2 separate regions of the Homo sapiens genome follow, and region 2 is linked to region 1. Evidence: fine-mapped expression QTL. A gene starts in region 1. The other region holds a variant in brackets. All regions are shown on one strand. Distances are from middle to middle. Region 1 holds the start of DPY19L1 (dpy-19 like C-mannosyltransferase 1). Region 2 overlaps LOC105375228 (a long non-coding RNA gene).

Evidence for each region.
Region 2: its variant is fine-mapped to the expression of DPY19L1 in whole blood (INTERVAL, PIP above 0.99).

What each region holds. Positions count from the first base shown.
Region 1 is chr7:35,028,799-35,044,092 of GRCh38, reverse strand. DPY19L1 (dpy-19 like C-mannosyltransferase 1) reads left to right here and starts at 6,608. Exons shown (of 22, transcript NM_001366673.1): 1 at 6,608-6,996. The coding sequence starts at 6,699. LOC105375228 (a long non-coding RNA gene) reads right to left here and starts at 7,307. Exons shown (of 3, transcript XR_001745162.3): 1 at 7,172-7,307. RefSeq lists an enhancer at 5,769-5,998 and silencers at 6,049-6,718, 6,749-6,918.
Region 2 is chr7:35,066,851-35,082,144 of GRCh38, reverse strand. The region is part of intron 1 of LOC105375228 (a long non-coding RNA gene); the gene reads right to left. It also overlaps the pseudogene DPY19L2P1. Among named protein-coding and RNA genes, the nearest start is that of DPY19L1, 37 kb to the right of the region's middle. The variant C/A (reference allele first, on the strand shown) is at 8,093.

The sequences.
Region 1 (15,294 bases):
ATTGAGGGTGGAAAGCAATGAATTGATTTGAGGACCATTAATGAGACAGAATCAGCAGGATGACTGCCTGGATAAAGGAATAGGGGGAATGGTAATGCCACTTGCTGGAGTAAGGAGACTGGAGGAAAAGCAGGCTTGGGCTTTGGGGTTTCAGGTGACTAAAAGACACCCCATCACAAGGAGGAGCCCCTCTTCTGGACACAGCCAACCTCTCTTCCAGGGGATGGTGCTCCCTCTACTAACTAGCTGCTTGGTCATCTCTCCACTCTTCTGGCTGCCTTTCTACAGTCTTAAGCATGCCCAAATGACATGGCTGTTATCTTCATTAGAACTCTCCACTAAACCAGCATCTCCCCAAGGCAACCACTAGATCTCTCTCCTTCCTTCATGCATAGACATCCTTGGCAGAGTACCTTATACTTGCTATCTCTGCTTCCTCAGAGGCTTCTAGGAGTCCTTGTGCTTTCCACAGAATGATTTTCCAGTCACACTCAAGTTAACAGAAGTCTGGCATCTTCATCTAATACTGCACAGAACTGCTCTAACAAAGATGGTTAAAGACCTCCATGTTTCTGGTTCACAGGACACGCCAGTCATTATCATGTCAGCTGACCACTTCCTTCCATTGATTTCTCTGACCCACATGCTCCTGGGTTTTGTGATCTCTCTGGCTGCTCTTTTCCAGTCTCCCTTACAGATATCTCTTGTTCACAAACATCGATGTCCTCTAGAGTTCAAAAACTAGGCTCTTTTTACCTCACACACATCCCCTGGGTGATCTCATTATTGTCTTTTTGTTGAAGATTTCCAAACCTGTGTCTACAGGCCAGCTCTCCTCAGTCTCAGACCCATACACCCACCTGCCTGTTCAGTGCTTACACTGGGGTAAGAAGCAGACTGTTTGGTGAGTCTGAGGGTATGTGGCAGCTCCTTCTGATGGTGCCCAGTTTCTCCATTGAGTAGGAGGCAAGGCCATGTTTAGGGGAGTGGGAGTGGGTAACATGGTAGCAGGTTTAAGAGACTAGTGGACATTTGCTGTATCTTCTTGGGAGAATGGAACTAGGAGAATGTAGAAGGCAGTATGTGGGATCCAGTTGCTAATGGAAACTATGAATCCATAGGGTTCCTGCCTTCTATGTTGTGGGATTTCTCCAGCACTCCAGTAAATAGCATGGGTACGGATCCAAAGTTGGATAGTAACATTCTGCCACGTGGATGAGACAGACGGACCAAGCAAGGAAAGATCCCGGCAGAGGGAGTTGCAGTGACAGGCCCTGGGATGAAGACAGAATACCAAACAGACTTGGAGACAGTAGAGGATTGGATGTTTGAATTTTAAAATGCAGAGGCAAAGCCAGACTGGGGTGATGATATGGTGCAAGGTGAGACCGTAAGTATTGGTCAATGACATGAAGTGGGAGTGCAGGTCCCTGGAGATGAGGATGTCAAGGGGCTGAGAGGCTCAGTGTTGAAGTCATTCCTAGCACTGGTAGGAGCTGGAAGGACTGGGGCCAATGCTGGTGAGGTCAAGGGGGAGCTAATGGGCAGTCTGCACAAGACACTAGTGACAAAGAGCAGAGATAAAAAGGAGTTCAGAGGAGTTTTCCAGGAGGGAGAAAGAGGGCTTGGGGAGGGAGGGAGTGGAGCTGTGGGAGAATGAACCTGTCATAGGAGAAGGGTCTTCTGGGAAGGGGTGGAAGCTACAGAGAAGAGCTGAGTGTATCAGGAACAGATCGCTGACCCCAGGAAGCATAAGGCAAGGTTGAGTAGAGGGAACAGCTTAGGAGTCAGAGGATACATTGTGTGATACATCCAGGTTCCCACCCTAGATAATGGAGGTAGGAGATTGACCAAACGGTGTCCAACTGAATTGGTCCCAAATCTTCCTGTGTCTGGGGGCAGGTGAGAGGAAGGTTCAGGCCTCTGAAAAGGAGTCAACAGAAGCAAGCTGGAGGAAAGCAAGTTCTGGCCCAAAGAGGAGGCCAGAGGTAGAATTTTTGCCTCCCAGTATTCCTAAAGCCACCTTCATAGTAGGGGGAACTAAGTACCCTTGGGGGAGAAGCCTGCTCTGGCCCAATTAGATTTGGGGAACTCTGAAAGCCAGGCTTCAGATGGGGTAGTCTAGGCATTTCTTGTTCCACTCATTAGTTACCTCATTCATTCACTCTTTAATCCATTCACTTATTCCTAAAACGTACATTAGTTGTTTCTTCCCTTCCTTCCTCATCTGAAGAGGCTTAAAGTGTTCATATTAGCACCGACTGTGTGCCAGGCACTGAGCAAGGGTTTTTAGAAATATATAGCTCCCTGATTACACTTCCTTTGCCATGTTCCCTTCTATTAAAACAAAATCTAGCCTTCCAGCATGGCCTAGACCAAATTTCACCTATTCCCTGAAAACTAAATCACGTTGGCCATCATCTCTTCCCTTTGGAAATCTTTTAGTACTTATTCTCTGAATCACATATTTTGCTATATATGTTTTTCTAGCTTACCCTGCCTGTCCAATGAAACTGTAAGCCCTTGGGGATGGGGATTTAGTATATGAATTTTAAGTGTCTCTAATATCTACTAAAGACACAGTAAGCCCTCAACAACAGGAATTACATTCTAAAGAGACATGCCTCTCTGCAACAGAGTGGTTCTTGATGATGCACTATAACTAGACCTAATAATGAACTCTGAGTTCCTCAGGAACACTCATTGGAGCATGAACAGTTTAAATTACAAGGTCAGCTCCAGGAAAGACAGAAGATAAAATGTGAAGAGCAATAGAGTAGCAATTTACATTTGTTCTCATCAGACTAAAAGAATATATTATAATATAGTGTCAAGTTAATGCTGGAGCTTTGGAAAGTAGAATGTTACAGACATATTTTGTTGCACCCATTTTAGGTTTCCAAGAAGTGTGCTGGAATTATGCAGGTTCCTCTCTTGGAATGAGCAACTGCTTAGCAAGACAAATGTCAGATTCTAGAACTTGACCCTAGGACACTTTTCCAATACAGTGATCAAGTGACCTAGTTCAAGGAAATGACAAATAAATGTCATGGATTTCTCATTCAGCTGTCACTCTATGGGTAGGAGAGCAAGTAGGAGGAAAAGGGGAATATTTAGAAGTTCTAAATGGGGCCTTTAAAATGCCAATGTGGAGACATAAGAAAACTGGTTCCCAACATAGTCTTCCCTTGACCAAATTTACTTTTTTCATTGCCCATCTGACAATGTTTCCCTGATTCCTATACCTTATTATCACTAAGCTTTATTTCTCCACATCTTGTTTTCTTCTATGATTTTATGTTCTTGCTTTTTATTTTATGCTCATTTCCTCCTTATAATCTCCTCTGTCTCCATCCCCAAAGTTTAAAAGATATGTCTTTTTAATTAAACATTTTTATTTCAATGCCCAAAGTGTAACTTGTAGTGAGAAAAAGACTCGGCTTGCACCCCAGGGGCCAGGGCAGCAGCAATTCTTTATAAGTGGTTGCCCTTTCAGGTTCCTGTCCTTAAAAATCTGTCTGCCCTGACCCAGTATTTCTATAGCATCATGCAGGAAGTACCTTTCTGGTGCATCTGGAACTCCCAGAAAAAAAGCACATTAAAGCTGGTAATTTTAATGCTTAATTTCATTATAATCTTAGATCCGTTCATAGATCATCCATGTACAAAATGTTTTTTTAATATGCAGCTTTCAGTTTGCCAGAGATTTTTTGTTTTTTAGCATCCACCGCTATGTGTGGCAGGCACTGGTCTACAGATACATATAGAAATTAACTGCATTCCCATTCTCTGCTCTTGTGGATCTCGTTGTACTAAGGATAAAATGAAATCTGGCACATAATCTTCCATGACTGTTCTGGTTTCCATTCCTCCACCCTTCCTGTGTGAAATGCCTCCCTTTTGGGAGGGGGCACGAGGAGTTGCCTACTATTTTATCCAGGCCTAAGGACCCATGAGATGGGCAACATTTGTAAAGCATCTGTGGAAAGCAGGAAACCATTCAGGCACATCAACTGCCCAGAGAGCTGAGAAGCTTGAAGCCCAGCAGGCCTGGCTTAAAGATCACGTGGCTGTTCTTGCTCTCCCGCTCAGAGTGGCATTCTCCCCTTGCTATACCCCAACTTGGAATGTCAACTTCAGGTTCTGGGAGGACAGAAGTTTGCCACTCTCCTTAAACGTCATCCACTACTTTGAACACTTATTGAGCAACTACCAACATCCAGACAATTTGAACATTCACTGAGCAACTACTTGGATATATGTAATTGTTAGATGCTTTACACACATTGTCTTATTTTTTACAAACCTGTGAACTAGATGTTTTTGTTGCCTCCATTTTAAGAATGAAGAAATCCAGACTCAAAGAGGTATAATACCTTGGTCAAGGCTGGTATGGGTCAATGTAGTGGCTGCAAACTGGATCTAAATTGACCGTGTTTAAGAAAAAAACAAACAAAACAAAAAAACCAAAAAACTAATACCTCACACTGCCCCTCTCCGCATGGTTGCCAAGCCGAGAAGGGGAACTGACAAGCACTTGTGGAACTGCATTCATTCACTCACTCATTCAACAAGTGTTTTCCTGGTACAAACGGTACCAGCTTAAGGGAGGCAGTTCCTGAATTCAGGGCCTATCACATAAAGTAGACACACAGCAATCTAATAATTCAAATGTTGAACCTCTTTTTCCATGCGTCTTTCTAATCATTAAAAAAAATCCATCATTTGTATTATTTTTATTTATTTATTTTTTTGAGATGGAGTCTCGCTCTGTCGCCCAGGCTGGAGTGCAGTGGCGTATCTCAGCTCACTGCAACCTCCGCCTCCCGGGTTCAGGCGATTCTTCTGCCTCAGCCTCCCAAGTAGCTGGGACTACAGGCGCCTGCTACCACGCCTGGCTAATTTTTGTATTTTTATTAGAAACAGAGGTTCACCATCTTGGCCAGGCTGGTCTTGAACTCTTGGCCTCGTGATCTGCCCGCCTCGGCCTCCCAGAGTGTTGGGATTACAGGCGTGAGCCACGGTGCCCGGCCAGTTATTCGTATTATCTTTAATAGGCATTGAATTAGCTTTCTTTTAACTGAATACATTCAACATTAATCCCAGAGGTAGCATTGAGTTCAGCTGACACAATGTTTCAGAATCCAAGCCTTCTGCATCCTACTTTCAACCATTATTTTTTAAACCAGTGTATAAAAATAGTTGTTCTTTGCTCCAATAAAGACATTGGAAAATCCAAATTCATAAACTAGACAGGGTATGAGGGAGTATTAATTAGCATGGCAAACACCCTCCCTTTACAAAATAATCCACTGTCTCTTAAAAAGGCTAACAATGAACGAATGCTGGTATTAGTAAAGAAATCACTGGGCAAAGAAACAAAGAGCGAGAAAGCCACGTGAAGTCCCTGGAATTACAATAGAGATAAGCAGAACGATGGGCCTTGATTTACAACATTGGGACTTAAAGACAACTTTTTGGAACAAGCCACTGGGCACGGCCAGGAAAGGAACCTCCCAGTTGTAATCCATGCTGTTGTAAGACTGTGTGCAAAGAATGCAGGGGTGGAGGGAGAATTGGGATCTACCTGGGTTTCTAAATTTTCCCGGGTTTAATTTACTCGTGCATTCTGCTATGTAAAAGAAAACATATTTTCGACTAAAATCTCCTATCTTATCAACGCCAAGTTTTCCTGCTTCCTATTAAGCAACAAGGTTACAGCAAGTGTAACAAACTGAATGTACTTATTGATGATCTTTCCTGCTCCAGCCAATCCATCCTATCACCTTCAGCCTGGCTCCTACCCTGGTCTTCAGTTTACACTTGTGCCTCGTCCCTTATCAGCTCCCCATGAGATTCCAGGCTGCTATTTTAATACTCTGTTACTATCTTAAATCGGGTCGCACCCGTTCTTCTTGTCGGTGAGTGAGGGGCTGCGCTCCAAGTTGCGCGACCACACTGCGGGGAGTAAACGGAGACGGTGACTTGATTGCCACCCGCGCGCTTCACATCGGTGGGGCCGACCAGGCGCCCAGGGCGCACGCACAGCGCCCCTAAGTGGCCGCTCCGGGCGCCTTCTCCCTGCCCCGCCGCGTCTCGCCTGCGCGGGCTCCAAGCGCAGCCTTAACAGGCTCCGAAACTTGAATCAGCGCCCCGATCCCGAGAGGGCTCTTCCTTCGGCCCCATCACTCCCACAATGGAAGGGCGGCCGCCTCCGGAAGGCCGTCCGCCCCCGCGTCCTCGCACCGGCCGAGCCCCGCGCGGGCGCCGAAGAGGTGTGGGTAGCCGGGCGCCAGAGGGGTCGGGCCCCGCCTGCGCCGGAAGTCCGCGCGTGCGCGCTGGCCGGCCTGGAGCGCGCGTCCGGCGCAGAGGGGCGGCGGGGGCGGGGCCGCGGCCGCTCGCAGGGTGTCCCCGCCCCCGCCCCCCGGCGTTCCGCGGTCGCCGTGACAACCGGAGCGGCGGCAACGGCGGCGGGCTAGCAAGTCCGGCGCCGCCTCCCGGCGGTACTGCCAGCCAGGCAGCAGCCGCCCGGCCTCCACGATCTCCCCGCCTCCCGGCCCGCGGGGAGGGACGAGCCCGCCCTCCACCCTCCGCCCGCCCGCCCGCTGGAGAGTGAGCTGCGCCCAGCCGCCCAGCCAGCCCGCCGTTCTCTGGCCGCCGTCCGGGCGCGCGCAGCGAGCGGGCGCGACTATGCCAAGATGGTCCTGCAGGCGCGGAACAAGCACCGGGAGGCGGCTCCCAAGCCGCCCCAGCCACCCCGCGCCTCACAGTCGCCGCTGAGGGGGGCGTCGGACGTCGGCGCCGGGGAGCCGGGGCCCGAGCGCGCGCCCCTGTCCCCGGGGCGCAAGGGCGCCGCGGGCAGGAAGGGGCCCCGCGCCGAGCCCGGCGCGCCGCCCGCCGGGGGCGGCCTTGGGGGGCGCCTGGCCGCCCGGCTGCGCTGGGCGCTGGGCCTGCGGCGCGCGGGGCGCGGCCGGACCTGGACCACGCTCCTGTTAGGTGAGCAGCCCTAGCGCCGGCGCCGCCGGGACGCGGAACTTTGAGGCGCTGGCCCCCTCCCCTCCCCTCCCCTCCCCTTCCTTCCCCTCTCCTCCCGCTTCCGCCGCGCCGAGCCCCGCCAGCCGGACCAGCCAGTTTGCAGCCCTCTCCGACTTTTTCTCTGGGACATTCTTACCTTCTCCTCCCCGCAACTCCCTGGCTCAGCTCTCCTCGCACGCTTCCCACCCGCGCTCTGCCTGGGCTTTAAAAGAATGGCCCGGGGATCAACAGCTGCCCGGCCTGGCCGCGGGCAGCAGGTCTGCGCTAACGAGACTTGAGCGCTGCTGATTGGTACGACTGGCCGCCTTCCCGTTATCTCGGCCTCTGACCGCCAGGATGGTTTGCTTTGGCTTGGAAACGATTCCGTGGAGCTCAAAGCAAACGCACGTTCCATGTCGTAGAGAGTTGCTTAAACTTATAATTAAATTTTAGCGTACTTTTTTCTTCCTGGCCGCAAACGCCGCTGGTGGCACTTTATTTGTGATTCCCCTCGACACGTCACTTTCTAGGTTGTGTTGTGTTTGGGGCGCCCGAGCCTTAATCCTCCCTGCTGCCCTTGGAACCTTTGGTGAGGAGGGCTCTCCTCCCCTCCCTCTGCCATTTACCAAATGGATGATGTGTAATGATGTGCTGAAAAAAAAAAACAAAGTTGACGCATTCGTATGTTTCGGACTGACTTCAGGTTTCCTCTGTTTCCTGGTTGAATTTTGATAAGGCAAGTTGTAGCAGTTTGGATAACAGGCCTAATTTTTCTAAGTCAACTAGTGAAATGCTGTTACATTGCTTTTTTCTATATGCCTCAGTGGGCTTTTCGCTACTGAACTATTTAATTACTGTTGATTTATCCCTTAGTATATTTTCAGATTCCCTTGGTGACTCAAAGTTCCCTTAGCCAGGAGTTGGGGTCCAGTATAAGTCAAGGAATAGGACACAGCAAATTGGCTTCCCCTGAGATCACAGCCACAAATAAAAGCCACTCAGTCATAAAAAGCCAGTCATCTCTGTATGTTTTAATGGGCTCAAGAAGGTTGTTCCTAGGGTACTTTTTTTCCCCCCATTGCCGATTCAAGCCTAGAAAAACCAAGTTTGTTTTTCTTTGTTTGTTTGTTTGTCTGTTTCCAGCACATTTCCCCCCGCCCCCTTTTTTTTTATCTCAGTAGCAAGCTTGAAAAGCTGGCTAGTATGCAGGTTAGAAAAGCTCACCTTGGGGAGGCAGCACGATACAGTGGATGAGGCAGAGCCTTCAGATCTAGTACACAGCGGTTCAGTTTGGTTTAAGTTTCAGGTTCCTTTGTGAGTCTTTCGTTCTCTGCTAGTGGGGGGTTATCACATGGCGAATTTACTCCACAGGGATCCACAGGATCTGTTAAGGATCATAACTAAAAGGTGTGGGTGATACATGGGAAGATACTTTGTGTTTAGAGCACTTGACACATTGTAGTTGTTGTAATAAAAGAAAGTGTGTGATGCTGATTTGAGATCTGATGACAGAATGGAGTTGCATTTTTATTGAATGACTAAACATTAACCACTTTGTAGTAAAATATAGAATGGCATTGCTTCTTCAGGGATGTTACAATAACAAATCTTAGAATAATGATATTTATTGCTATTTTCTGCATATTTTCTTTTTTGATTGCGTTTCCTTTGAATCTTCTTTGGATGGATGCATGACTTATATTTGGATGACTTACCTTTGGATTTAGTAATTCCCATACCTAAATACAGTTTTGTATTAATGTAACAGTATAGCACGTTGCTTGACTTGCCCCTTTGAGCATTGAAAGGAGGTACAGTGAATGTGGTAGATTGTATTTTTGGGTGTACCCTGGACCATGGCCATCAGATATATGGAAGTTGGATGAACAGACCCAGGTCTAGAGACTTTCTGTCCTTGTTAACCCTCTGCATGAGGCCCCAGGGCACCTTGAGAGATGATTCTGCTGAATGATTGGACCTGGGTTGCTTCTTTCTCTGGCTCTGTACCGTCATAAACTGATGTCAGACCTATTTCTTCCCCACGATTATGCCCTGCCACAGCGTCAAAAAACCACTCAGATCCTGCAGAGAGGAGCAGAGTTTAGACATTTTTGAAAGCTGCCTTATTTCCTGTTTTCTTCCCCCCTCCCAGAATGAGTGAGAGTTGAGCTGACATTATACAGTATTTCAATGTGGGACTTTAAAATAGCTGTTTGGTTTTCCACATTGCATTGCATATTCTTTTGTTCATCAAGAGTTCATTTGTAACTGATCAAAAAAAGAACAATTATAACAACTAAATATTAAGCTAGACAGAAATGGATTCATTTCTATTTAGAAAGTAATTTTGTAACTTAAAGCTCCGTGATAGAAACACACATTTTCAAGAGTTAGAAACTGTCTGGGGCTTTCCTCCATAGGTTCTAATCACTGATGAGGAACTCACTGCCTTCCAACATGGTCTTTCCACTGTTGGGCAGGGTTAAGCATTGTTGAAAAGTCTCTTTTCATAAATATATGTTTTTCTTATTGTGGGGCATTATTTGCTACTTATTTAGTGCTAATATTTGTAAAGAGGGGTTCTTGACATGTTTATTTTTAGAAGTTTCAACCTGATAGCTTCCTCATGCAGAGGTGGCTGTGACATAGTAAGAACCTTGACAATGTTTCCCAAACTTTTTTGACCACAGCTGACATTGTAACAATACATTTTATATTAAACCTGTTCACACTTCCACAATGCAACTCAGTACATATATGCATAAGTCTATATGTCTGTTGGTCTATTTATGTATGCCAGTGCTCCGTCATGGAAACAATTGTGGTAGTAAAAGATACACCCATTAGACATGCAAACAAAGCATGTCTGTGGTGAAAGACTAACATGAGATACTATATACACAACAATAAAACAAGAACCTGAGTATGGGAAAAGTGGATGATAAAAACTACCTTTTCCCCCCTTTGCATTAATCCTGTTTGACTCATTCCCATTGCCCACCTGGTTCCTGTGGTCAATGGCAAGGGTACACCTGCTATAACCTGGTTCCTTATTGACAAGGCTTTGCAACCTCAGCATTGTGGCATTTTGGGTGGGATAATTTTTTTGTTGAGGGGGCTTTCCTGTGCACTGCAGGATTTTAGCAGCATCCTTGGCCTCCACCTACTAGATGCCACTGGTATCTCCCCAGTAGTGACAACGAAAATGTCTCCAGATTTTGGCCATTGTACCCTGGGAGGCAAAATTGTGTCATTTGGGACCACAGCTTTTATTCTCTACAGCTTACGAGAACCTTGAAGCCCATATGGTAGGAAACACTTGCGACTTCTTAGAGGCAGAAGTGGTCAGAAACTGGGTGGAGGCAGAGAGTTGAATCTAGCTGTTGGGGACTAGATGGGGGGAGCAATGTGGTGTGGTAGAAGCAGCATAGCCATATCAACACTGGCCTGCATTTGAATCCTGTTTCTGCATTCGAGCTGTTCTACACTCCTTTAATATTTCTCACCCTTAAAATGGGAATAATAAATGCTTTGTCTGATTATGGTAAAAAATAAATGAGATAATACATGTAAAATAGCACAGTAAGTTCATTCATAGTCAGTCATACCATATCATTGAGCGTCTACTAAGCCAGATGCTAGTTGGTGGGGTAAAATGTAGAATGAGACTCTGTCACCCCTACCTTCATGGAACTTACATTCTGGAAGGGGGGATGGTAAATAAATGAAAATAATTGCACATTGTGAATGAGTGCACTGCAGGAAAGAAACAAGCTGAGATAGAAAAAAAAGGAAATACCCTCTTTAAGTAGGGTCAGGAAAGGTCTCTGGGGAGGTAGCCTTGAAGCTGAGACCGATAGAAAGAAAAGATGTCAGCCGAACAGAAGAGTATGACAGAGCTTAGCATGTTGAAAGAAGAGAGGGTGGAGGTGCATCAAAGTGAGATGGGCATGGGCCAGATCTTGAAAAGGAGCTTGGGTTTTATTCTCAGTGCAACAGGAAGCCATTGAGGAATGCTCAACAGGAGGAGAGTGACATGATTAAATTTTTACTTTGAGAAATCTGCTCTTGGGAAAATGGGTGGTTGCACTACAAGGACAAAAGTGGAGAGACCCATGAGGAGGCTGTTCACGGACCTAGCAAGAGGGTTGCTGGCCTAGATGAAGGCGGTGGCTGTGGAGATGGAGAGAAATTGGTCAATTTGAGTTGTATTTTGGAGGTGAAAATGATAGGACTTATGAATTGGGCTTGGATTGAGGGAAAGGAAGGAGTTATGAATACTTTGTACATTTTTGGCTTCTCTAATTGGGTAAATAATGCTGGCATTCACCAAGATAGTGAAGACTAGGGGTATGGATGAGGGAATGGGTTTGAAGGAAAAGGTCAAGAATTTCGTCTTGGACATGTTACTTTTGGGACATTTGTGAGATGTCCAAGTAGAAATGCCAATCAGTGGTGGGATATGAGAGAAAAGGTCTGAGTGGAGATGTACTACAGGGAGTCATCAGCAAATAGGTGGTTTTCACATTAATGGTAATTGAATTTGTATTCCCATTGAACTTCTATTTCCATACTTAGGGGAACAATAGCATCTTATACTGATAGGGGGCTTACTCTTTGCCAGGCTTTGTTGGAAGTGCTTTAGATGAACTCATTTAACTGTTTACTCAGTCCTCACCATGACACTATGATTACTGTGCTTGTTTTACCACGTGGGGGGAATCTGAGGCACAAAGATATTAAGTAACTTGTCCAAGGTCACCCCTAGAATGTAGAAGGGCCAGGATTTGACCCAGGCAATGTGTTTCCTAAGTTCATGCTCTTAACTAGTATGCTATATTTCATCTCCTCTAAGGGGACAGTACAGCAAAAGAAATGAAACCCTAGAGTCCAATTCTGAGAAACCCTAACATTTTGTGCTCAATAAATGTTAGTTTTCTTGTTTCTTCCTTCCCCAGGAAAAAGAAGGAAAAGAGGGTCATACTTAGAGATACAGGAACAACAAGTAGAAAGAGCATATTAGGGGTGGCATAAGGGCCAAGAAAAGCTAAGGAAGCATGAGGCACAGGGACACAGGCCATCTTGGTGTGCTTGCTTTCAAACAGACACATAGACCCAACTGAGCACCAGCTGTGAGAGTGTGTTTATGTTAATTCATAGAGGTTATGCCAATGGGAATTTGGGATTTTAAAGAATTTCTTTAATGTTTACAGCCATTTTTTTTTCTTTCTAAGATAGACTTCTGGCTAACTCTAAAGAATGTTTATAATCACCTAAACATATTTTATTATTAACAGATACAGTTAGAAGTTTTCTGAATATGTGATGCTCATTAGCATCCAAATAACAAATTTGATAAGTTTAGTTTATGTAAATATAAGCATATGTTATCTATTTGTGATTGATTTTTGGCCAATAATATGGCATCAATACTGAAAGCACATACAGTTTTATTTATGTACATATGGGTATTTGGATGTTGCTAATATTTGAACCGTGGCTGTTATGCATTGTAAATACTTATCCTATTAGGCTGTATTAATTTCTCTTAATGAGTGTGTTAGGTATATTAATGTTTCTTAAAGTTCATGCTAATGAGGCAAGTTGTTACTTAGTAACCCCGAGGGATTGGTTCAAGGACCTCCCTCCGATATCAAAATCTGCAGATTCTCAAGTCCCTAGTATAAAATGGCATAGTATTAGCCTATAACATACACACATACTCCTGGATACTTTAAATCATGCCTAGATTACTTAGAATACCTAATAGAATGTAAATGTTACTTATATATTTGTTACACTGTATTGTTTAGGGAATAATATCTGCATGTGTTCAGTACAGATGGATTTTTTTTCCGCCTACTATTTTCAATCTGAGGTTGGTTGAATCTGCAGATGTGGAACTGACAGATATGGAGGACTGACTAAATCTACATTGTCATAGAGACCATAAACCTGTGTACATAGTTCCAAATGGGGTAGCTTTAGGCTTTATTATTCATATGTTTAATCCTAAATTCCTGTTTTGCTAGTTCTTTTGCCATCAGCTTGTACTTCAGCCAAACCATTGAGACATTACTCTTCCAGGGGAAGAGGCTGCTAGTTTTATTTAGTTACTGTTAGAACTGTTTAGTTATAATGGTTACTAGTCATCAAAGCTAGTAAAAATTACGTCTATATCTGGGTCTAGATGTTGTTTAATCTCATAAAGGGCAGTTTCATTTCATAGGGAAGATCAGTTCTCCATGGAGGACCTTTCATAATTCAGTCAAGAATCACTGAATATAAATACATTTAAAAAGCAGAATAATTTATTTTCAGAATACATAAATCTACAACTATTGTAGCTTGATTTTGTGCTTTAATACTGCTTTCTATTTTCTCAGCATTCTCACTATTATTTTTTTCCTGAGAGCTCTTAATAGCTGTTTGTGTTTTTCTGGCATCTTTCTCCATATTTGTGGCTGATTGTCAGGTGTGTTTTTCAGCACGATCACTATCACATAAAGAATGTTTGGATGGCATTTTGTAATTTTAACTTTATTAAAGCAGCAATTGTTAACATAATAGCGTAGCTGTCACCAAGACCACTTACAGAAGTTCTAGTATGGTTTATTGTACTGATCATGAAAACGTGTGATTTTATCTACTAGTTTACAGTAGCACTAATTGTAAACACAGTTTATAAGTCACTTGACCAGTTACTTTTGAAAACTTGTTACCTAGACAAATTATTAGTTTAGGGAGATTGTTGTAATTGAGAAGAGCGAGGCTTTATTAATATTTTTAATACTAAAATTTGTCCAAAGTGCTACTACTCTGCCCTTTGGGCAAATACTTTTCCTATTTCCTAACAGTAATTACTACTTTTTATAATATAGCTTTTCAGTGTTGGAGTTGTCAACAGCAGAATCTTTTTCTGCGGGTTTTCATATTAATCATAAAGTTCTTATGTAATTGTTTTCCGCTAAGTTTAAAAAGTTGTTGTTGTTTTTTGAAAATGAGACCTTATTTCTCACTCTTTTCTCATCTTTCATATCCATGGGAATGTTATAAAAATGTAGAACTTAAAGGTTACCCTCTTAGAATTTTCTTGGTGAGAAAACTAAAATAGGGCCAGGTGAATGGCCCAATGTAATTATTGAGTTCAGCAGGTGAAGTTTGGGATTGAAGTTGAGTTCTCTTGTCTTTGTTAATTACATCCGTGTAAAATTGTAGGTTTCAGATCTAAAGTCTAAGGCATCTGTCAAAGGCACATTAGTGGGAAGTTGACCTCATGTGTCCCATGACCCTAGAGCTCTTTTGACAAGAGCTTTACTGGCTTCTGGTCATTTGGGGGAATCACTCTTTTATATCTTTATGGTCAACCTGTCAGTCTCTGGGGTTTTTTTATATGATTATTTTTGAAAACTATTTAATTGAATTTTTTTGTGTTGGTTGGCTTGGCAATGATATAACAACACAGTAAAATAGTAAAAAACTGTCACAGTTTTCTTAGTCACTTAAAAGATAAGCAAGATTTGTGATACCCAGGGGAAGCTTGCAATTTGAGGGGAATGCATATCTTACCATTGGAATGGGTTATCAGTTAATGAACTTGTTAAATCTCTTGCTGAATATGATGGGGCCTGGACGTGTGTTGTAGGTGTGTGTGGTTCTCTTTTTACTCTAGTGGAGAGATGCAGATTCTACACTTTTTCCATTAGGTTTACTAAAGTTTTACAGCTTCCCTATGCATGCTCAGAAGCAGATCATATTATCTTGGTTGTGTATCTTATCTAGCCATTTGTTCTTAAAACAATAAAATGCACTTTTTTAATAAGAAGAAAGTTACTTTATGAAAATTACTAATGTAGATTACTGTTTGATTTTGAAATGTTTGCGTCAAAGTCATTCGAATCAGAGCAAATCCATTTCGAATGGAGGCTGAGTAAAATAAGGCTGAGACCTACCAGGCTGCATTACCAGAAGGTTAGGCATCCTAAGTCACAGGATAAGATGGGAGGTCAGCAAAAGGTACAGGTCACAAAGACCCTGCTGATAAAACAGCATGCGGTAAAGAAGCCAGCCAAAACCCACTGAAACCAAGATGGCGATGAAAGTGACCTCTGTCATCCTCACTGCTCATTATACACTAACTGTAATACATTAGCATGCTAAAAGACATATCCACCAGTGCCATGACAGTTTACAAATGCCATGGCAATGTCAGGAAGTTAGGCTATATGGTCTAAAAAGGGGAGGAACCCTCAGTTCCAGGAATTGTCCCCCCCTTTTCCA
Region 2 (15,294 bases), 38 kb before region 1:
GCTAAAAAATGTTAAATTTATCAGGAATTCGATTAGGTTTTAATTTGTCTATTTTACTACAAATGGGCCTTATGTTTAGATGGTGATGGCACTTGGAAATTATATTTATGTTTGTTTCATCTTGAAAGTGTGCTTTTACATATATATTTATGAATGTATATTGAAGCTTTATTATTAGGATATGTCTTTCATTTGGTTAAATGAGATGTGAAAATGCAACATGCTTAATTTCATTCTATTTTTTAAATTTCTAAACATTGAAATTGTTTTTTGAAATGACGCTTTAAAATATTTAACTTATGAAATAAATTTGTCTCTGAAAATCTAGATGTTGTGTTATGTATCTATTTTCTCTAGACAGGAATACATTTCTAATATGGATATATATGTCTGTCTTTTTTCAGGCCTGGTTGCAGTATGCTTGAAATCTGTGATGTGGAAGACCCTTCCAATGCAGCTAACCCTCCCTTATGTAGCGTCCTGCTCAAAGATGCCAGGCCTTACTTCACCACAGTATTTCAGAATAGTGTGTACAGAGTATTGAGGGTTAACTGAGAAGGAAACTACCCATTACACTATGGCACAATGTGGTGTGTCAAAAACAATCACCCTTTGGCTTATTTACATTAATAAAAATCACAAGCTTTAATAACAGACACTTAAAAATAAGATAAAAATGGATTGAAAGTTTCTCTGATTACTAAAAGGTAAATTACTTTTCTGTTCATTGAATGTCAGCCTTATTAAGCTTGTCATATAAGTTATTAAATCATTCATGTCATACTGCATAAACAAATGTTCATTTCAGAATTTTAAAGAAAAATGTATATAAAAGAACAATGAATTTTAATAAATCAAGGGTACGTAAGTCCTTTTTCATCCAACTAGGTGAATTGCTTCAGATTTTCCCTAGTACCAGAGTGTACCTGCTCAAACTCTTTGAACCACTTAAGGGAGAAGAACGCAAGCTCTGAAATGACATCCTTAAAATGCTGATACTGATCACAACCTCTTTACCTCTGTGAGCAAATTGTAACAGTGTGTCTTTTAAGGTGTTTTTATTTCACCAGCCCTTAAGAAAGATCTCTAATACCTTTTAATACTTTTTTTTTATAATTTCAAGTTGAAGTGTTTTTAAAAACACCTTGTTTTGTAACGTTTTGAATCTCTTGAGATGTATTTACCCCACTAGATACATATTTGCCACTGGTTAGTTCTCCATCTAAGCTCAAGAGGTTATTCATCTCTCTTTAGATTCCAATGGTTTTTCTTTTAACATCCAGGTAAAATAGAAACTGCTATGGTATACAACCAAATTTTGGGGTTAAACATAATCAGAAAAGAAAATCCAGTTAAATTTATGAAGTGAGATTTTCAGATCCTAGATCTTGAATAAAGCAAACGGCTTTTCATCTTGATGGCCCCAAAGCTTGTTGGTCATGGTCTTTATTTCTGGCCACTATCATCTTCTTAAATAATATATTTTTAAGCCCTCATTTATTTTTGGTTTTGGATGAGGAAAGTCATGTTTTCTAAGTCCTCTCCCCTAATAAAACCTACCCAACAATAGTGCTTTGAAAAGTGGTAGTTATCTTGAAGATAGATACTCTTGCCAAATGCAAAGATAAACATTCTTTTTGTCTGCTTTATAAATATGAAATATGCCAGATCTATAGTATTTTAATGTGCATCTACTTTAAATGAGTCATCTTGGGGTTTTTATAATTCCCTTACATTCTTGCCCCTCTACACTTGAAATAACAAAATGCCTTAATTTTATAGATTAGTTCTCTTATAGCAGACAGGCAGCTATATGCAGCAAAACCAATAAAGTTATTTTTCAACTTTAATAGTTGTAAAATGTTATAACAGAATACATAACAGCTAAGAAAACATGCCACATTTTATTTTAGCATTTTCAAATAATTTGTTTTTGGTGTAAGCACAGGATAAAAAAGGAGAGCGTCAAAGAAAAGAGACTTAAAAAAATAACATTCATAAAAATTAACAAAGTATATTTTGGATGATGTTTTTACAGGAAATAGTTTAAGTTGGTAGAATTTTTAAAATGGTACTGTATTAGCTAATAAAATATTCAGTACATATATATGTTTGGATTTATGCATTAAAAAACTAATAAAATTATTTCCAACTTTTGTATTTGTAAATTATTTTGGTACAGGAGACAAAGCATCTAAGAAAGCATGCCGCACATTTTACTTATTTTAGCATTTTCAAATAATCTGTTTCAGTGATGTGTGGGACAAAAAAGGAAAAGAGACGTAACACCTAACATAAAATTAAAGTAACACATTTCAGATGATGTTACAGTAGCAAAGACTTGTAACTAACCCAAATACCCATCAATGATAGACTGGATAAAGAAAATGTGTCACATACACACCATGGAATACTATGCAGCCATAAAAAAGGATGAGTTCATGTCCTTTGCAGGGACGTGGATGAAGCTGGAAGCCATCGTTCTCAGCAAACTAACACAAGATCAGAAAACCAAACACCATATGTTCTCACTCATAAGTGGGAGTTGAACAATGAGAACACATGGACACAGAGAGGGGAACATCACACAAGGGCCTGTTGGTGGGGGGCAAGGGGAGGGAGAGCATTAGGACAAATACCTAATGCATGCAGGACTTAAACCCTAAATGACGGGTCGATAGGTGCAGCAAACCACCATGGCACATGTATACCTATGTAACAAACCTGCATGTTTTGCACATGTATCCCAGAACTTAAAGTAAAATAAATTTTAAAAAGTCAGTAGAACTCAACAAAAAATGGATGAGCTGTACTAATAAAATGTTCCATACACATACGATGTTTTCATATATATTTATGTTATTTTCATGTACTAGCTGTGTTAAGTAACTGTAAAGCCCTTGAAGATCCTGTTTTCTGTCTTTTCTCATCCTTCACAATGCATACATTTTGAAATTGAAATTGTTCTCATATAAAGGGAGAAATAGGTTGCTGGGCTTACTAGCCATGTTTACACTGGCAGTGCTCTTTCTTAGCCATTTAAAAATGATTCTGTATAGTCTTACACAGAAGGCAATATACTATGATGGAAATAGTGTGAGCTGTGCAATGAGATGTATCGAAGTTTGAATACTGCTTCCATTAGTTAGGTACCTACCATGTATTCAAAAGATATTCATTAAACACTTACTGTATGTCAGGCACCATGCTATGGTTGGTCATGTTACTTAACTCCATGAGCTTTCTTCACCTGTAAAGCAGAACTCACAATACCTACTTGGCGGAGTCATTATGAGGATTAGTGAAACAAAGTTTTGAAGTACCTGGCACATAAAGGCACTCAACAAACATTAGTTTCTTCTGCACTACCCACTACAACTCACTAATAACCATTTCAGTAATATCAAGTTGCAGAGTGAGGTTAGCTCATTTCAGAATTCCAAATAGTCTCCCCTTTATTTGATGTCAACAAATAGGAGTACTGGGCTGCAGCTTGTTCTTATACAAATTGTTCTACTGAATTCTTGCCTGTATAAATTTTATTTTTTATTCTTTTGAAACATGAGGAGATTTTCACTTAATTCAATGAAGCTTTTTCCATAGTTTCTAGGATCCTATGTTTGCACACTAATCTGCAACTATGGCTAGAAGTGAGGTGCACACAAGCTGCAACAATTCCTTCATCTGCTTCATCCGGTTGTCAGAAGCAAATGCACAGCTTCAACAGTATCTGTGTTCTACCACTTTGCTGCTGATAGACACCAAAAATCTGAGTACTTTAATAATAAAATTATGTTTATATTTTTATACATTACATGTTCCTATTATACACGAAGGACAAACTCACAGAAAAATTAGTTTTGAAAAAAACAGGACATTTTAAAGAAGGGGACAATTATATATATACATACACATAGCAGCAAAAATGGCAATAGCTCAAAAGTGGTTAAGATATACATACAGACACTGCAATGAACATCTTAGTGCATACTTTATGATTTTAAAGTTATTTCCATAGGAAAGATTTCATAAAGTTAAATTTCCTTAAAAAAACTGTGGACACCCTTAAAGCCTTCAATGCAGTTAGCCTCAAATTACCTTTGCAAAGGTATGTGTGCACCTTTTGGATTGTATGCACCACCAAAAGTTAGTGTGTATAACAATGCTCATTTTACAACACTCTCACTGGGATTAATTAGCCTTATTAAGAATATATTTTGCTAATTTGTGAGGCCCAAAATAGTATTTGTTATTATTCTCATTTGTATTTGTTCTATGTCCAGAAAAACTCACCATATTCTTTAGAAAGTGTATGTCTCTGAAGCTCTGTATGGGTTCATATTCTTTAATTCATCGAGTCTGTTCATAAAGGATGGGGATTGAGATAAGGGGAAAGAAAAATCTTTGAAAATTCTTAATAAGAGAAATATAAGGACATTTTCAAAAGGACAGGTATATATATATAACTTCATGCACAAAAGTCAAATTTAAATGGGTCAAGGACTTAAATGAAAGTAAAATGTTTAAAGTCTTAGAAGAAAATAGGGAAATACAGATTAAAACCACATGGTAATATTTACATTCAGATAAGAATTGGTGAGGACAGGGTGCCACAAGAACTCTCATGAAATTATAGTAGGAGTGTAAATTGGTACAGCCACCTTAGAAAATAAGTTGTTAATTCCTAATAAGTTTTAAAGTATGTAGTCTCTGCAATTTATAGTGTCACCCTAAAGAAATGTTGTTACAAATATACCAAGGAAACCAATTACAAGAATCTTCATGGAAGCATTATTTGTACCTGAGGAAAAAAAGCTGAAAACAACTCAAAGGCCCACCAACAGAATGGATAAAATGGATATTTCCATACAACGTAATATTGTAAAGGAATGAATGTGATCTACAGTGACAAGCATCAGTGGGAACCAATGTCAAATAGACTGTTAAAAAACTAAGTCATCAAAGGGGATGTGTGTGCATGTCAATATATATGCCATTTACATAGGGCCTAAAAGCAAACAAGACAATATTATAGAAGATATAGTGTGGCAAAACAGCGAAAGCATAGGCATAATTAATTCAAAACATAGGCTGGTGATCACTTCTAGGAAAGAATGCAATACAGGAGAAGCCCTGGGTGCTTCAATGTTAATATTCAATTCCTTGGTGTTAAGTATACAAGTGTTCATTTTATAATTCTTTAAAATGTGTGTGTATATATGTATATAATGCTTAATATATATTTATACTCTTCAAAGTAGGGCTTTGATTCCTCATCAGTGGTTCTTAAACCTCATGTTCTCTTTAGGTAACTCTGGGAGCCTAAATAAGCATCAAGAGTTGTTCTGATGACACGTCCAGCTATTCAAATAAATGTTCAAATTGTAGATTTTATTGTTTCCATTTGTGCAATGTATTTTTTTCCTTCCAACTTCTATTTTAGGTGCAGGAGTACATTTGCAGGTTTGTTATATAGGTAAATTGCATGTCATGGGGTTTGGTGTACAGATTATTTTGTCACCCAGGTAATAAGCATCGTACCTGATAGGTATTTTCTCAGTCCTCGCTCTCCTCCAACCCTCCACCCTCAAGTAGGCCCTGGTGCCTATTATTCCCTTCTTTTTGTCCATGTGGGCTCAGTGTTTAGCTCCTACTTATAGGGAGCACATACAGTATTTGGTTTTCTGTTCTGTGTTAGTTCACTTAGGATACTGGCCTCCAGCTCCATCCATGTTGCTGCAGAGGATGTGATCTCATTTTTTTATATGGCTGTACAGTATTCCATGGTATATATGTACCACATTTTCTTTATCCATTCTGCCATTGATGAGCATTTAGGTTGATTCCATGTCTTTGCTATTGTGAATAATGCTGCAATGAACATACATGTATATGTGTTTTTATGGTAGAACAATTTATATTCCTTTGGGTATATATCCAGTAATGGGATTGCTGGGTTGAATGATAGCTCTATTTTGAATTCTTTGAAAAATCTCCAAACTGCTTTCCACAGTGGCCAAACTGGTTTACATTTCCACCAGCAGTGTATAAGTGTTCTCTTCTCCACAACTTCACCAGCATCTTTTTTTTTTTTTTTTTTTTTTTTTACTTTTTCATCATAGCTATTCTGACTGGTGTGAGATGGTATCTTACTGTGGTCTTGATTTGCATTTCTCTAATGATTAGTGATGGTGAACATTTTTTCATATGCTTGTTGCCTACATGCACGTCTTCTTTTGAGAAGTGTCTGTTCACACTTTTTGCCCATTTTTAATGAGGTTGTTTGTTTTTGCTTGTTGATTTAAGTTCCTTATAGGTGCTGGATATTAGACCTTTGTCAGATGCATAGCTTGCAGGTGTTTTCCTCCATTCTGTAGGTTGTATGTTTACTCTGTTGATAGTTTCTTTTACTGTGCAGAAGCTCTTTAGTTTTATTAGATCCCATTTGTCAATTTTCGTTTTTGCCGCAATTGCTCTTGGCATCTTCATCATGAAGTCTTTGCCAAGGCATATGTCCATGGCCTTTCTTGTTTTCTTCTAGGGTTTTGATAGTTTTAAGTTTTACATTCAAATCTTTCATCCATCTTGAGTTGATTTTTGTATATGGTGTAAGGAAAGAGTGGTACGGTGTCTTAAAAATTACCAGATTGTGTTTCATAGGATTTTGAAAAAAAGATGTCATTCATAGAAATTGCATTAAAATTCACATCTCTCAGGATGTGTTTCTTCATCTGTACATAGGTGATAATACCTACCTCATAGAATTACGAGGATCAAGCCAAGTGTTCCATGTCAATGTGCATTATTAAGGGCTACACATGTGATCCACTTTAATACCACCAGACAATAGGCCAACTTTGAATTGGATGTTAATAAAAAAGCTATGATGTATTCATAATCCAAAAGAGCAAATAAGATTATTTATATTTGACTTAGAATAATTTTTTGAGGAGCTTTTGCAGCTACTGACTTCTTTAGTATGCTTGCCTGAGATTAAAATAGATATTGACTTCCTTATTGTGCTTTTCTGAGATTAAAATTCTTTCATATCCTTTGAGCCCATATAGATAATGGCTTTTACTTTTAAAATTTTCTTCCAAGAGATACATATAACTCATATGTAAATATTGAGATTATTCAGATGAAGCTGCAAAGCCAGTTCACAGACTATACTGGATTGAATCATATCCAAGAACCTATGAATTTTATTTAAAAAGCACCTCAGCTATTGAAAAGAGCAAGACTGTTTACACAGCTTCATACAGACCTAAGAAATACAATGGAGATCATACATGAGAGTTATTTCTTTAACAAGGATGGTGTGGCAGCCACAAAAGTACACCACCTTTAGGGTACTCCTCTGAGAACCTGCTGTCCAGCTGCAGGGAGCAGAGGTAACTGACAGCCTTCAACTGTAGCGCCATCAGCATGTGCATGGCATTCACTCTGGGTCACATTCTTCCTGGGTAACCCCCAGCCAATGACTGAGCAAGGAAGATATACTAGTCTGTTCTCACATTGCTATAAGGAAATACCCAAAACTGGGTAATTTATAAAGGTAAGAGGTTTAATTGACTCACAGTTCAGCATGGCTGGGGAGGCCTGAGGAAACTTACAATCATGGCAGAAGGTGAAGGGGAAGCAAGCCACCTTCTTCACAAGGTGGCAGGAGGGAGAAATGAGCGCAGGAGAAACTACCAAACACTTACAAAATCATCAGCTCTCGTGAGAACTCACTACCACGAGAACAGCATGGGAGAAAACACCCCCATGATTCAATTACATCCACCTGGCCTCTCCCTTGACATGTGGGTATTATGGGGATTACAATTCAAGATGAGATTTTGGGTGGGGACAGAGCCAAACCAGATGAGAAGGGTACTGTAGGGCCTGGCTGTTTCAGCCCAATGCTGAACTGCTTCATCAGGCAATCTTTGCTCTGAAGCTGCTCACTGAGCAAGCCAAGCCCTGGTCAGCCGTCCTTTGCAGCTGGAGGCTCTCCCGCTTTCTTCCTCTTTCATAGATGTCAACGGGCCTCACAGCTGAAGGCTTTACCCACCCAGTCCTGCTCCCCATCCTCTAACAGCTATGA[C/A]ACCTTCCTAGTTTCACCCCTTCACCCGTTCCAGTTTTACATAAGTTTTCCTCACTACACAGAGATGGTGTGGTGCCACCAAGATCATTATTCATTTTACAACCTTACTGGGATCCCCTGATGATATCCCTCTGAGACTGCAGCACAGTAGACCCTGGCAGAAGACAGGACCCTGTACCTATAAGATGCCTTTTCTATCTCACAGATCCAAACCATTGTCAGATTTTAGAGTTCCTAGTATGGAGAAAAGTCCCTTGGGAACAGTAGAGCCTGGATTGAACTCTTTTAAAATAAGTAGGAGGTAGGCGCTTGTGGTCCCAGCTACTCGGGAAGCTGAGGCAGGAGGATCGCTGGAGCCCAGGATGCAGAGAAACACGATTGCGCCACTGCACTGCAGCGTGGGCAACAGAGTGAGACTGTCTCAAGAGAAAAAAAAAAAGTGAGTGTGCAAAATGTTCATTTTATGTATACTTAGTGCCATCTGCTGGCTATGAAATATGATAGCATTTGTCATGAAATTACAAAAAGTGTTAAGGTGCTAGTTTGCACGTTTTCATGGAAAATGGGAGAAAGCAAGAGAACTCAAGGACATGCACTACATTTTAGTTTTGTTTGAGTTGTGATGATCTCAGTGGCTCTTCTCTCCCTCACCCACCCACCTCTCCTATTTGTTCAATCTCTCTCCCTCCTCTGGTGCCTTAAAAGGGTCTCCATGCTTTGCATCCCTCCTCCACTCCACGATCAGGGACCCGCCCGGCATCACACGTTCTGCTTCAGCAACAATGAATTGCTGGAAATTTCCAGCAACTCTTTTTCCTGCCAGTGCTCACACTGTACCCTTGCCTGTTAAGGTCTTACATGTCTTCCTCCCACACCCCTGCCTCTCACCTGCTCAGATGTCCCCTCCTGCCAGCAGCCAGTCCTGACCATCCCCTCTGTGCTCTGCTAATGCCACTCCACCTGTCACATAGTTCGATCATTTAAAAATGATCTGTTTTCCTTTGAAGTCTTTCATTGAACTCTGAATTACTTAATAAAAGGGTTTGTATATTATTTATTCCTGTTTTCCACCCGACACCGTACCTGGAACATAGCAGATGCTCAGCAAACATTGCACAAAAGAATAATGTGGAAAATAAATGGTTAAAACATAGAAAAATTTTAAAGATAGGGTATTTGGGTCACTTTTACTGTTTTCTGTCCCTACAATATGGCTGAATCATCCCCCATATGGCTCAACATTTTCTTAGTTCTTTTAAAAGTACCCAACACTATATTGAGTGCTCTGGGGATCAAAATAATAGTATATATATTAAGGCTGGGTTTGAATCCCTGCTCTACCATTTACTAGCTGGGCAATTTATATAACACTTTAAAATTTCATCATCTGTAAAGTGGAAATATTAAAGGTATCTTCTTCAAAAGTGACATTTGGAAAAAAAAATAAAGTAATACATGTAAAGCATATGAGATTCAGTAAGCACTGGGTTAGTGGTGAGTTGTTTTTGTTGTTATTGCTAAGACCCAGGAACCCATTGTTTGAAGATCAGCATAGAGCACTTACTGGTTGGGTGGGATTTCTGTTCTCTACTCAATGGTTTGTTTATTCTTTAGAGACTGTCCCCTCTAGAGTCTATTATTAATATTTTCTTATGCCAATTTATGGGAGTTTTACTATTGTGCTGTTTCTCTAATAATAGCTAATTTATATCTTTAATTTTTAAAAGCCATTATGCTGGAAACAGAACATTCATACAAACAATACATGAATGAATGTAGGTTATACTGCAAAATAGCTGGTTACTATAATGTAGTGGTATTCCATGGCTTTAAGTTTAAAAATAACTTCACATTTACTAGAGTGGACTTACCCTCCAGGCATAAAATTTTAAAACCCAACAACTCCAGGCCTCCAGAGTCTTTACTTCCCACTAACTTCTCACCAGTGAAGGCGAAGCTAATGAAAAAGGATAGATGACTGCTTCTCAATTGGAAATGGATCCAAATACCATCAAGGGAATTGGTGTTGGGTATACAGATTTTACCTACTGTCACAGGCTGGCTGGGTGGAGGATGGGGAAGGTGGTGGTATCGGTCTACTTTTAGAGTTTTAAATGTTTCTCTGAATTCCTGTAGCAGATAATTTTGAGAAAATTTTGCCTAGAGAAAGAGTCTGAAACCAAAAAGCTAATCAGAAGCAAAGGTTTGCAGCTTGGATCTTTAACATTAATAAGTCTATTGCTTTTTCCTACCTCCCACTCCTGCTACCTGAAGAAGGTGAGTAGGAGGGGAGGGATTTTGAAAGAAGAGGGATGTGGAGGGAAAAGGACATAAGTGGTGGTTGGGTAGATGACAGATAGTGGTTGTCTGCCTGCCACCCATCTAGGTATGTCTCCACGGGTGGCCTCTGCTTTTGCCCACAGGGGACTCATTCACGCACAAAGGAAGATGACAGACAATTGGCCAGAACATAGAGCACTGAAATGAAACACAAAGGCCACTCTTGGGCCTCTGTGTTTCATCACAATTATGTTAGTTTGCTAGGGTGCCATCATCAAGTACCACAGACAGGTGTCGGAGATCAAGGTATCTATCAGGAGGGTTAGTATCTTCTGGGATCTTTCCTCTTGATTTGCAGATAAGTGTTTTCTCCCTGTGTCTTCACATGATCTTTCCTCTATGCCTGTTGTGTCCTAATCTCCTTTTCATATAAATTCACAGTTGAGCACATAACTCGTATTTAATACCATATGTTGGAATAAAAAGCCTTATAGCAATGCATAGGATAGAAATTCTTTTCTTTAAAACTTAGTTTGAGTATTTTGCAGTAATGAAAAATGGTCCTGACATACAGAATGCCATCTAGCTTACACCTGCATGGGGCATGCATGGCATGAGGCATGCAGAAGAAAAAGATGAGCAATCCTTACCTGAAAAGAGACCACCCTCTCCTTTAATGGGAGGGGAAATTAAAGAATAATTTAATGGGAGGGGAAATTAAAGAATAATGCCCATAGTTTGCTGCAAACACTATTGCTCAATTTAATACTGTAATGGAATCTACAATGTGTGTACAATCATTGTTAACTATACCTTTATTATCTTTATAATGTTGAGGTAAAGAGCTTTCTGCTATTATGCATTAATAACTCCATCCCTAATGCCATCATGGTTCTAGTGTCCAGGGAAGGAGTCTGTATTAGTCTGCTTTCACACTGATATAAAGAATGCCAACAGAGACTGGGTAATTTATAAAGAAAGGAGGTTTAATTGACTCACAGTTCTGCATGGCTGGGGGGCCCTCAGGAAATTCACAATCATGGTGGAAGACAAGGCACATCTTACACAGCAGCAGGTGAGACAGAGAGAGAGAGAGAGAGAGAGAGAGAGAACGAACCAGGAAGTGCCACACTTTAAAACCATCAGCTCTCATGAGAACTCACTCACTATCATGAGAACAGCATGGGGGAAACCACCTCCATGATCCAATCACTTCCCACCAGGTTCCTCCCTTGACATCTGAGGATTACAATTTGAAATGAGATTTTGGTGGGGACACAGAGACAAACCATATTATTTCACCCCTGGCCCCTCCAAAATTTCATGTCCCTTTCAAGTTTCAAAACCAACCATTCCCTCCCAAGAGTCTTAAAGTCTTAACTCATTCCAGTATTAACCTGAAAGTCCAAGTCCAGAGTCTCATCTAAGACAAGGCAAGTTCCTTCTACCTATGAGTCTGTAAAATCAAAAGCAAGTTAGTTACTTCCAAGATACAATAGGGGGCCAGGTGCAGTGGCTCACACCTGTGATCCCAGCACTTTGGGAGGCCGAGGCAGGTGGATCACCTGAGGTCAGGAGTTCAAGACCAGCCTACCCAACATGGTGAAACCCCATCTCTACTAAAGATACAAAAATTAGCTGGGTGTGGTGGCCGGCGCTTATAGTCCCAGCTACTTAGGAGGCTGAGGCAGGAGAACTGCTTGAATGTGGGAGTTAGAGGTTGCAGTGAACCGAGATCACACCAGTGCACTCCAGCCTGGGTGACAGAGGGAGACTCCATCTCAAAAAGAAAAAAAAAGATACAGTAGCGGTACAGCCATTGGGTAAGTATTCCCATCCAAATGGGAGAAATTGGCCAAAATAAAGGGCCCACAGGCCACATGAAAATCTAAAACCCAGCCGGGCAGTCATTAAATCTTAAAGCTCCAAAATGATCTCCTTTGACTCCATGTCTCACCCAGGGCACGCTAATGCAAGGGGTGGGTTCCCATGGCCTTGGGCAGCTCCACCCCTGTGGCTTAGCAGGGTACAGCCCCTCCAGCTGCTTTCATGGGATGGCATTGAATGCCTGTGGCTTTTTCAGGTGCAAGGTGCAAGCTGTTGGTGGATCTACCTTTCTGGGGTCTGGAGGATAGTAGCCCTTTTCTCACAGCTCCACAAGGCAGTACCTCAGTGGAGACTCTGTATGGGCGCTCCAACCCCACATTTCCCTTCTGCACTGCCTAACAGAGGTTCTCTATAAGGGCTCCACCCCTCTAGCAGACTTCTGCCTGCTTTTCCACACATCCTCTGAAATCCAGATGGAGGTTCTGAAAGCTCAACTCTTGTCTTCTGAATACTCACAGGCCCAACATCATGTGGAAGCTGCCAAGGTTTTGGGGCTTGCATTCTCTGAAGCAATGCCCTGAGCTGTACCTTGGCCCCTCTTAGCCACAGCTGGAGCTGGAGTGGCTGGGATGCAGGACGCCATGTCCCAAGGCTGCACAGAGCAGCAGGGCCCAGGGCCCTGAGGACATTTTCCCTCTTAGGCTTTTGGGCCTGTGATGGGATGGGCTACTTTGAAGATCTCTGAAATGCCCTGGAGACATTTATCCCATTGTCTTGGTGATTAACATTTGGCTCCTTGTTACTTATGCAAATTTCTGCAGCTGGCTTGAATTTCTTCCCAGAAAAATTTCTACCACATAGTCAGGCTGTACATTTTCCAAATCTTTATGCTCTGCTTCCCTTTTAAATGTAAGTTCCAATTTCAAACCATCTCTTTGTGAGCGCATGTAACTGAACGCTTTCAGAATCAACCAGATTACCTCTTGAATGCTTTGCTGCTTAGAAATTTCTTCTGCCAGACACCCTAAATCATCTCTCTTAAGTTCAAAGTTCCATAGATCTCCGGAGCAGGTGCAAAATGCTGCCAGGCTCTTTGCTAAAGCATAGTAAGAGTGACCTTTACTCCAGCTCCCAATAGGTTCCTCATTTCCATCTGAGACCATCTCAGCCCGGACTTCATTGTCTATATCATATATCACTATTAGCATTTTGGTCAAAACAATTCAACAAGTCTGTAGGAAGTTCCAAACTTTCATTCATCCTCTTGTCTTCATCTGAGCCTTCCAAACTGTTCCAACTTCTGCCTGTTATCCAGTTCCAAAGTTGCTTCCACGTTCTCAAGTTATCTTTATAGCAGTACCACACTACCTTGGTACCAATTCTCTGTTTTAGTCCGTTTTCACACTGCTATGAAGAATACCACCAGAGACTGAGTATTTATAAAGAAAGGAGGTTTAATTGACTCATAGTTCTGCATGGCTGGGGAGGCCTCAGGAAACTTACAATCATGGTAGAAGGTGAAGGGGAAGCAAGGCACATCTTACCTGCGGCAGGCAACAGAGAGAGAGAGAGAGACTGCAAGAGAGAGAGAGAGACAGAAAGCGAGTGAGCGAGAGCAAGCGTCAGGAAGTACCACACTTTAAAACCATCAGCTCTTGTGACAACTATCATGAGAATAGGATGGGGGAAACCACCCCCAAGATCCAATCACCTCCCACCAGGTTCTTCCCTTGGCACCTGAGGATTACAATTCAAGATGAGATTTCAGTGGGGACACAAAGTCAAACCATATCAGAGTCTTCCTCTTAAAATTCATGGAAAGGTCATCTCTATCTAATCTCTCTCTGATGCTTCTTTTGGCAGTATCACTAAAGACATTTCCATCCCAGAGAGTAGATGTGGAGGATGTCAGATTCAAAAAGAAAAAATTATTTGTCATTGGTTACAACCACAAAACCATTTACTATAGTTTTAATATTGTGAATATCTGTTCTGATCCCAAGAGATCATCAGTCAAGTAGAGAAAAATAGAACAAACTATTTCTAGAGTGTCTAAAGCATTCATTCTATCATTTTAGTAGATGATATACATGAACATCAACATCCAGTCATTTCCTGAATAAGACAAGACATTATAATTTACCTTAGAGTGAAGCTGTTCTCATAGAATTTACATTGTGCAATTTTGCTTTTTCACATGAATAAATTAGGGGCTCAGGAAGTAGAAGGACAAATAAGGCAGAGAACAAGCAGGAAAAATAATTGAGGTAGGACCAGTAATCCATGGAGGATCCCCAAGTTCAGGTGAAAGCATAGAATATATCTGAATGTGAGAGTTGAGCCAAAGATAGACTCATTTAGCCATGGACTCACTGATGTGTGATCAAAGAAAAATAAGTCTGAAGAGCACTGGAAACCCAGGCAACAGTCATGGAGGAAATGGATAGTCAAACACTAGTAAAAATAATAATAATAGCCATCATTTACAGGCTTACTCTTTCCTAGACTCTTTATATATTATATAATTTAATCTTCAGGACATCTTAGTAAAACTGTTTTGCAGATGAGAAAATTGGGTCTCAGAGATGTCAAGTGCCTTTCTTAAGGCCCTCCAACTAGACAGGGGCAAAGCTTGCCATTAGATTTGGGCCTGTCTAATCCATTAATACAATCAAACAAAACCACTGTGTCCTGGATGGAAGTCATTAATTTAAAGGGAAGTAGAACTAGACACCTAGAAACTAAGAGATCCAGGAGTTCTCATTGTATATTTGGGACTAGGTGGTAGAGGACATGAAGAACAAGGAATAGCTGGCTGGGAATGAAAGCACTGACCCTCCTGCAAGAGAAAAGTAAGACAGAAACCGTGTAGTTGAAGAACCCAGATTCCAAAGGTTATCTCAAGCATTGTTTCAAAAATTGTTGACCAAGCAAATTACTCAGCTCTTCTCATCCAGAACCTTCTCGGGCTTGGTGTAGACCTGGAATCCAGGGCAGGACTGAACCTCAGGGATGGGGACCAGTGTCCACCAGTGCACACAGTGGAGAGGGGAAGGGAAGAAAGCCAAAAGGCCATTAATTAAACCCAGGGACTC